2 linked regions of the Homo sapiens genome follow. Each later gene encodes a partner of the first gene's protein in a complex. Each region holds a gene or a part of one and is shown on either strand. Other genes may lie near its edges. The genes, in order: PPP4R1 and PPP4R2.

Region 1 (3,825 bases):
CCTTTAATCTTGAAGAGATTATAATTTCCAACAAAACAAATACTATGGGGCATCTGTCTCTTGCCTAATGAAGAGAAAGCAGAAGGGAGAGCAAACATAGGTAGGTACCAGCCCCCATACTGCAGATTGCAAGTGGCACGCTGCCAGGCAATGGTTTGTACATAAAAACAACACCCAAGTTTAAAAACTAAGTTTTAGGTCAGGCACGGTGGGTCATGCCTGTAATCCCAGCACTTTGGGAGGCTGAGGCAGGCAGATCACATGAGGTCAGGAGTTCGAGACCGGCCTGGCCAACATGGTGAAACCCCATCTCTACTAAAAATACAAAAAATTAGCTGGGCGTGGTGGCGGGCACCTGTAATCCCAGCTACTGGGGAGGCTGAGGCAGAAGAATTGCTTGAACCCGGAAGGCAGAGGTTACAGTGAGCTGAGATCGCACCATTGCACTCCAGCCTGGGTGACAGGGCGAGACTCCGTCTCAAAATATCAAGCAAACAAAAAAACCTAAGTTTTAAATGATAAAAATGATACATGCTTCCGATAAATAAACTCCAACTAGAACAGTAGAGGGCTAATTAAAAAATCCCTTTCATCTTCCATGCCCTCTTGGGAGAATCACCGGAACAACTAAAGTATTTCCTTCCACCAGATTATTTTCTCTGAGCAGACAATACTTCTGCTTTGATATCTGCTGATCCAGTGCAGTCCACAGACCTCCTTCTCTACTCACACGCTTCTTCTAGTGGAGTCACTACCTACCTTTTTCTAGTAGAGTTTGTCTTAATGTCTTTGCAAGCAGCACTCGCACGTTAGGAACCCTGTCATTTGCTAAGGTTAGCAGATGCGGCATGAGATGCACAGCAAACTGGTCCATGGGAAGGCAGTCATCCTCAATGACAGTCTGGGGAAGAGAAACAGCTGCTCTAGGCTTCTCTGTCAATGTAGCCAAAAACTCGACTACTGGCTAACAAAATCTCTGAGTGACCACAGGTACAAATTTTAGTTATTGCTTTTTAACCAAAATTCCACGTACTTGGGAACTCAAATCAAAAATTACATAATTAACTGCCCACACGGACAGACACAGTTTTTAAACTGCTCTACGGAGACCTAGAGTGTTCATTCACAGGTGTTTCATTTTCACACCTGCGCTCTGGGTCCCAGACATGAGCACCCTCTAGTGGGAACCGTGGTATGGTATATGTGTGCACAGTATGTGTGTGGTGGGGTACATGTATGTATGCCTGTGTAATATGCAGTGAGGAACAGTGAGGAACATGCATGTATGTGCACTGTGAAATGTACATATACACACGTCTGAATGTGTGCAGAGCAGAACACGCACATACCAGGCATGTGGTGTGGAACAAGCACATACAGCAGGCACGTGGGGTGTGTGTGGTGCATGCCAGTGTAAGGAGGGGCTTGGCTAGCTGGGAGAGAGGGGCCACCAGATGCCCAACAATGGGGGCAGATGATCCTATAAACAGCCAGGCTACTATAAGGTTCTGTTCCTTAAGAGTAAGGAAGAGGGTGAGAGAGAGGTAGGAAGTTAAAGAAGACATTCTTCTAGGAGAAAAACTCACAAACAGGTAAGCCCAGGGCCTCGCTTACCTGGCAGACAAAGACAAAGGCTTGCCGACCAGACCACTTGGGACATCTGCCAAAGTTCTCCACAAGCTCATTGATGAGGTCCACTCCGAACGTTGGTGGTGTTGCCGCGTGCAGCTTCTTCACCATCTCGCTGACCTGGGAGGGTGAGCATGGAGAAATGAGGAACAGCTTCCATTCTAGGATCTTAGAGTTTGCTGATCTAAAATTTTAAAAGTTCAATACATACCAACTTGTAGGAAATCCAACGAACAGAAGAAACTTTGTCTGCACACAGATTCAGAGCAATGGGACGTAAATAGTCATAAACATCTCTGGGACTATATAACTCTAGAAGTAAAATCAGCTGTCTACAAAAAGGAATTACAAAAAGACAATGTTTAAAAATCAGCGAGACAAATGAAAATAGGTTACCCATTTAAATCATCTGTAATACTGGATTACTGAGCACCTGTCTCAAACATACGCAAAGAGGAGTGATTAAGCAGACCTCTCCTGTACAGTTACCTCCAGTCTCTGTGTATCTGGAAATGCACTTACATGCTATTCAAGTTCCTTAGAGTGTAAGGAAAACAAAAGCTGTAGAGTTCTGCATCCATGGGGACTGAGACAGAGCAAAGCACTTCCTAGTATGTTCAACTGGAACATGGCCCACACTGATCCATGGTCACAGTTTGGAATGTGCTGAGAAGCTTCCATCTACAATCAAGTTTCTCAGTAAGAAGTCCCCGCAGAGGGAGGGAGTCCACTGTGTACCTGTCGAGGCTCTGAGGAGCCTTCCTGGAAGGGATTTGCTAGGGATAACAGAGGGAGGGTGTCCTCCAGCAACCTTCCCATCACATCTGAGGGGCCCTGAGACTTTCATGACATCTACCAAGCTAACCTGAAAGCTTCAATGATGGCCTTGAAGAAATACCTTGGATGTGAGACTTTTGCCTTTCAGATTTTATGTTCAAGAGGATTTACATTTCTAATAAGCAGAAAGTCAACTGTAACATGAATATAGATTATGCAGCAATGATAAATGCACCTGTGTATACAAATATGCATCCTCAAAGAGACACACTTATTTTCTGACAAAATTCAAAATAAAAATTCCAAATAGGACCAGTTTCTGCTTAGAATACAGAAAACTGCAAAGAACGTCACTGACCCTACAGTAGAAAAAGCTACATAAACTTCAAGATCTTTTCTTGAGCCCATCAGAGAGCTGGGGTTGCAAAGCACACAAACAACCTAACTTCCCAAGATGGGAAAGAGAACTGCCCCTCAGCAGAGCCCGGATGGACAGGACACCTGCTAGCACCTAACAGGGCAGGGAGAAATCAGCTCGAATTGCAGTCAGCTGCCCAGGGCCAGATGGTGGCTGGCAGGAGCATGGGGTGGCTCAAACAAAGCCAGATGTGCCCGACACAGGGAGCTCACATTCCCAGACAACCTTCTGACTTCCACAGGGTACCTGCCTCCCATGGGTGCTTCAAGAAAGATGGTCAGGAAAAACAGGAGAGATGTCTCATAGCAGGCAGAAGCAACTGACTGACAGCCATGAATCATCAAGCACTCTGCTGGGCCCTTTTCTCGTGCAAAGCAAAAGGCTTAACCTGCTGGTGGAGGGGCCCCAAAGCCTGTCCACCCTGTGGGCCCAGCAAAAATACTGCAACTGTGGGAGAGGAGAACTAATGCTCCTTATTCCAGGAGGAGCTGTAGGAAGTCCTGCCCGAGACCAAGCACAGATAGGAGGTCCCACCCATTACGCAGGGGTGCAGGTACCGCTAAACGCCGGGTGGAATACTCACACTAGAAGACCACTGGTACCCCAGCTGCCACCCTCAGCAAACGACAATGGTAGTGGCAGCCCACAGCGAGAAAAACTGAAGCCCCAAGTACACTGAACGTAACCACAGCAATCACAAAACGCAAACCCAGCTTGACCCTGACTAGATGGACTCACACCCCGGCACTATATGGCAGAAGAGGAGGCGTGTGTTTTGAGTCAGAAGTGGGCAAGCCAGAACTCAATGGAGTGGCATCTTTAATATACTGAAAGACAAACTGTCAGCCCCACATTCCATACTCAGCAAAGACATCATTTGAAAATGCAGGTGAGGTCTATAATCCAGAATATATAAAGAACTCTTACAACTCAACAACACAACTTAAGATAATCCAATTTAAAAATGTGCAACAGACTTGGATAGACATTTCTCCACAAAA
Region 2 (3,769 bases), on another chromosome or scaffold:
CCTGAAGGTGGGATTTCAAAAATGATTTTTTTTATTTTTAAAGACGGACTCTCGATCTGTCGCCCAGGCTGGAGTGCAGTGGTGTGATCTCGGCTCACTGCAACCTCTGCCTCCCAGGTTCAAGCAATTCTCCTGCCTCAGCCTCCTGAGTAGCCGGGATTACAGGTGCCCACCACCACACCTGGCTAATTTTTGTTATTTTTAGTAGAGACGGGGTTTCATCATGTTGGCCAGGCTGGTCTCGAACTTCTGGCCTCAAGAGATCTACCTGCCTTGGCCTCAAGTGCTGGGATTACAGGCGTGAGCCACTGCGCCCAGCCTTTAAAATGATTAACACAAATATTGTAAATATATACATGTAAGCTAGTGCCAAATTATACCAGTGGAGACTTATTTAAATCTGGATTTTGTTGACAATCAGCATGACTTGCCTGGCAAAGAACCACAACTGTCAAGTCCTGCTGGAACACTTTGTCACCATGTAAGAAACAGGGCTGTAACAAAGTCACACATTGAGTTTCCTCAGTTAAGGATTTGAGGTGGGTGGTGGCGCAGGGTCGGGGGGGGTTGGGGGGGTTGGGGGGGAGTCGGAGTGGCAGCAGGGCAAATAAACCATTATGGCACATAAAATAATTACACACATAGAAATATTCTAATTTATATTTTATTGCATTATGAAAATAATACATTTGGCAAAGTAATCTAGGCTCCAAGTTGAAATAAAAGAAAATCCTGAAGAGTGTACTGATTTTTAAAATGTGAAATAGTAAGATGTAGTCTAACCAATACATACTAGCACTCTTATTAGGCCAAAACCCAGCAAACCTAATTTTTATAATTCCATATGAAATTACAAGGTGTTTTGCATTCATTCATTTTATGATTAGCACAAATCTTGAGAACTGACCCTCACCTTCATCAAAACCAATGTTAAATTCCTGTTCAGAAGACAATTTGAAACACTACCGAAAATTTTTAATTCCTTTGGTTTTGTAAGTTGCATTTTCATCCTTACCATGTTACATTTTTTTCATAATCAAACATTGTAGCAGCTTTAGATTCTGCCCAAGTACCTTTAAGTAAACTAGTATATTACATTTACATTATTTGAAAAGTTGATTTTACAAATGCAAAAATGCATAAATACATGCCTATCTACACCGGCAAAACAAAATACTCTGAATCTCAATGCTTTAACAAGCCACACCTTCTGGCCGAGGATTTCTGGGATGCCTTTCCAAGCCACAGGGCCTGGCTGGCAATTCCACTACTCCAAAACACACGTCTGAAAGGTGTAGTTACAATAAACCCTAAGCAGGTTAAATTTATCTAATAATCAACATTTAAAATATGACATTTTCACTACTTCTGCTACATTTTTCAGAACTGAAAATATATTTTTCAAAAATGTACAAGGATATTTTCACTTTTTAAAAGGGAAAAGTGCTAGAAACATAATACATATATATATATATATCTCACTTTCCTCATCACCATCTTCAAATTTTTTTTACATGTTGGGTTATAGTCTAGAGAACAGGTAAGCAATCTGCTCAAGGTCAGAAACAAAATATCTTTAATCACTGAGGTCTCCATTCTTCATTTAGATCTTTTAACAGGACTTTGCTTGATATATGTTAAGAAATATGCCTAAAATCACTTCTGTTCAGAAGTGAATCAGTTACTATTAGAACTGACATTTTCATTAAGCAAAGTCTGTGTTAAGTGCACCTATGAATACCTGCGGAAATTTACTTCCAAATGGCCATCAATATCTAAAACCAGCTGAACAAGGTTTCCCAATTTAACTACAGAAGTATTCCACCTACCCTAAAGATATTCCATGAGCATTCTACAATTATCTGTATAAACAGCAACAAGTTTGATCTATGATCAACATATGAATATCTAATAAATATTAAAACTATTAAACTATAGATTAAAATGCAGATCTCTCATAGAGTTAAGTGATGTCATTTTGGTACATTCACCATTATTGTACTTTATTTAATAAAGAAATACATTTGCCCTTGCAAATATAGCAATTGCAAGTTTACAAATAAAACCACAGACCTCAAAGTCATAATGCTAAATCTTCAACTTACAACCAACAAAAGTAAATCAATTTGTTTACAAATGGTCCATGGCACTACAATTAAAATAAAAAATATCAAAAGGTCACAGGATCTTAGGTAAGTTTACTGACAATTTCATAAATATTCAAAAGAAAATTTCAAAATTTGTAAACTTAAATTTGCCTCATTTTAACATTTTTGAAAAATTTTTTAAAAATTTACAATGGTTAATTTTTCTCCCCTCTTGGGTATAGTAAATCAATATTCAGATTTTATTTCAACTATTAGACATAGTCATAAATATATCATCTAGCTGTTGTGAACCTGACAGTCAAGTCAGTCAGTAGTATATTATCCTACAAACATAAATGGATCCAAATCGTTTTGGTATTTATAGCCATGATGATTTAAGTAGTCAAAACGCAAAACTTGTGGTTGCCCCCCAAATCACCCAAAAGCATATTATACAGTGTCAGAAACTGTTTGCATCAGTTTTAGAAGCTCATCTGTGTAGTTCAGGTATCTGAAACTAAAAAAGGGGGGATTCTTTCATATTTTGATAAAAATGTAGTCAAATATTTCATAACATTAATATTTATTGCTTTATATGAATACTGTATTGAAAGCCCAAGCATTCAGTTTACACACAGAAATTATACAATTATATACCGCTTCACAAAGGCAGTGAACACATTACATTCTACAAAATCTACTTTACAGAAATTTAAAAACTTTAAATATCAAAAGGTACAGCTGAAGAAACAGGTATAAATTTGGCAGCCAGTAATTTTGACAGGGAAGTTACAGCTTGCATGACTTTAAATATGTAAATTTGAAAATACTGAATTTCGAGTAATCATTGTGCTTTGTGTTGATCTGAAAAATATAACACTGGCTGTCGAAGAAGCATGTTCAAAAATATTTAATTCACTTCAAAATGTCATACAAATTATGGTGGTTTCTATGCACCCCTAAAGCTTCAGTCATTTAGCTCAGGTACATACTAAAGTAATATATTAATTCTTCCAGTACAGTGGTGTTTCATACCATTGACATTTGCATACCCTAGAATAATTTAGAAAGACATGTGTAATATTCACAATGTTCAGAAAAGCAAGCAAAAGGTCAAGGAACCTACTTGGTTCTTCTGAGATGGTCTCATATCAGCTTCATAAACATTCATTCTACAAAATAGTAAGCTAACATTTGAACACAATTTCCAAGATAAAGCATATTTTCTCATAAATAATGAAGTCTTTTTCTCAGGCACCTCAGAAGTATACAAAAGAATTTGAGTTTGAACAGATCTCTTGGAATGTGTTTAACCTGGTATTTCAACAGACTTAAGATTTCCAGGGTTTCACAAGGGCCAGATTTTATTTCAATTACTCAGAAGAGAAAGAAAATGTCTTCTGAAAGAGGTGAACTCAATCATTACCAATAGAAAAAGTATCCACTGTATTCATCTCTTATAGAAACAGAAAAATATAACATTTCCCCCCTTAGAATTATATATATATATATATATATATGTATGTATATATGACTTAAAGTTCCATTGTACGTAGCCAAACAATAAAATCTGGAAACCAGCATGAAACCCTATAATTCACATGTTAAAATGTTGAAACTATGACCAAAATATGAAAACTGCTAGAGCTATCAGAAAGAGACAAGACAAAAAGCTTCTTGCA

The links.
Region 2: PPP4R1 (region 1) and PPP4R2 share a complex: the UniProt entries of both Homo sapiens proteins name them as parts of the PP4 complex.

Annotation. Positions count from the first base shown.
Region 1 is NC_000018.10:9,548,438-9,552,262, forward strand, and holds part of PPP4R1 (serine/threonine-protein phosphatase 4 regulatory subunit 1), read right to left. Parts: intron 1,962-3,825; coding exon 1,841-1,961; intron 1,750-1,840; coding exon 1,615-1,749; intron 902-1,614; coding exon 760-901; intron 1-759. UniProt on the Homo sapiens protein: Regulatory subunit of serine/threonine-protein phosphatase 4. May play a role in regulation of cell division in renal glomeruli. The PPP4C-PPP4R1 PP4 complex may play a role in dephosphorylation and regulation of HDAC3.
Region 2 is NC_000003.12:73,066,078-73,069,846, reverse strand, and holds the end of PPP4R2 (serine/threonine-protein phosphatase 4 regulatory subunit 2), read right to left. Parts: 3' UTR 649-3,769; downstream 1-648. UniProt on the Homo sapiens protein: Regulatory subunit of serine/threonine-protein phosphatase 4 (PP4). May regulate the activity of PPP4C at centrosomal microtubule organizing centers.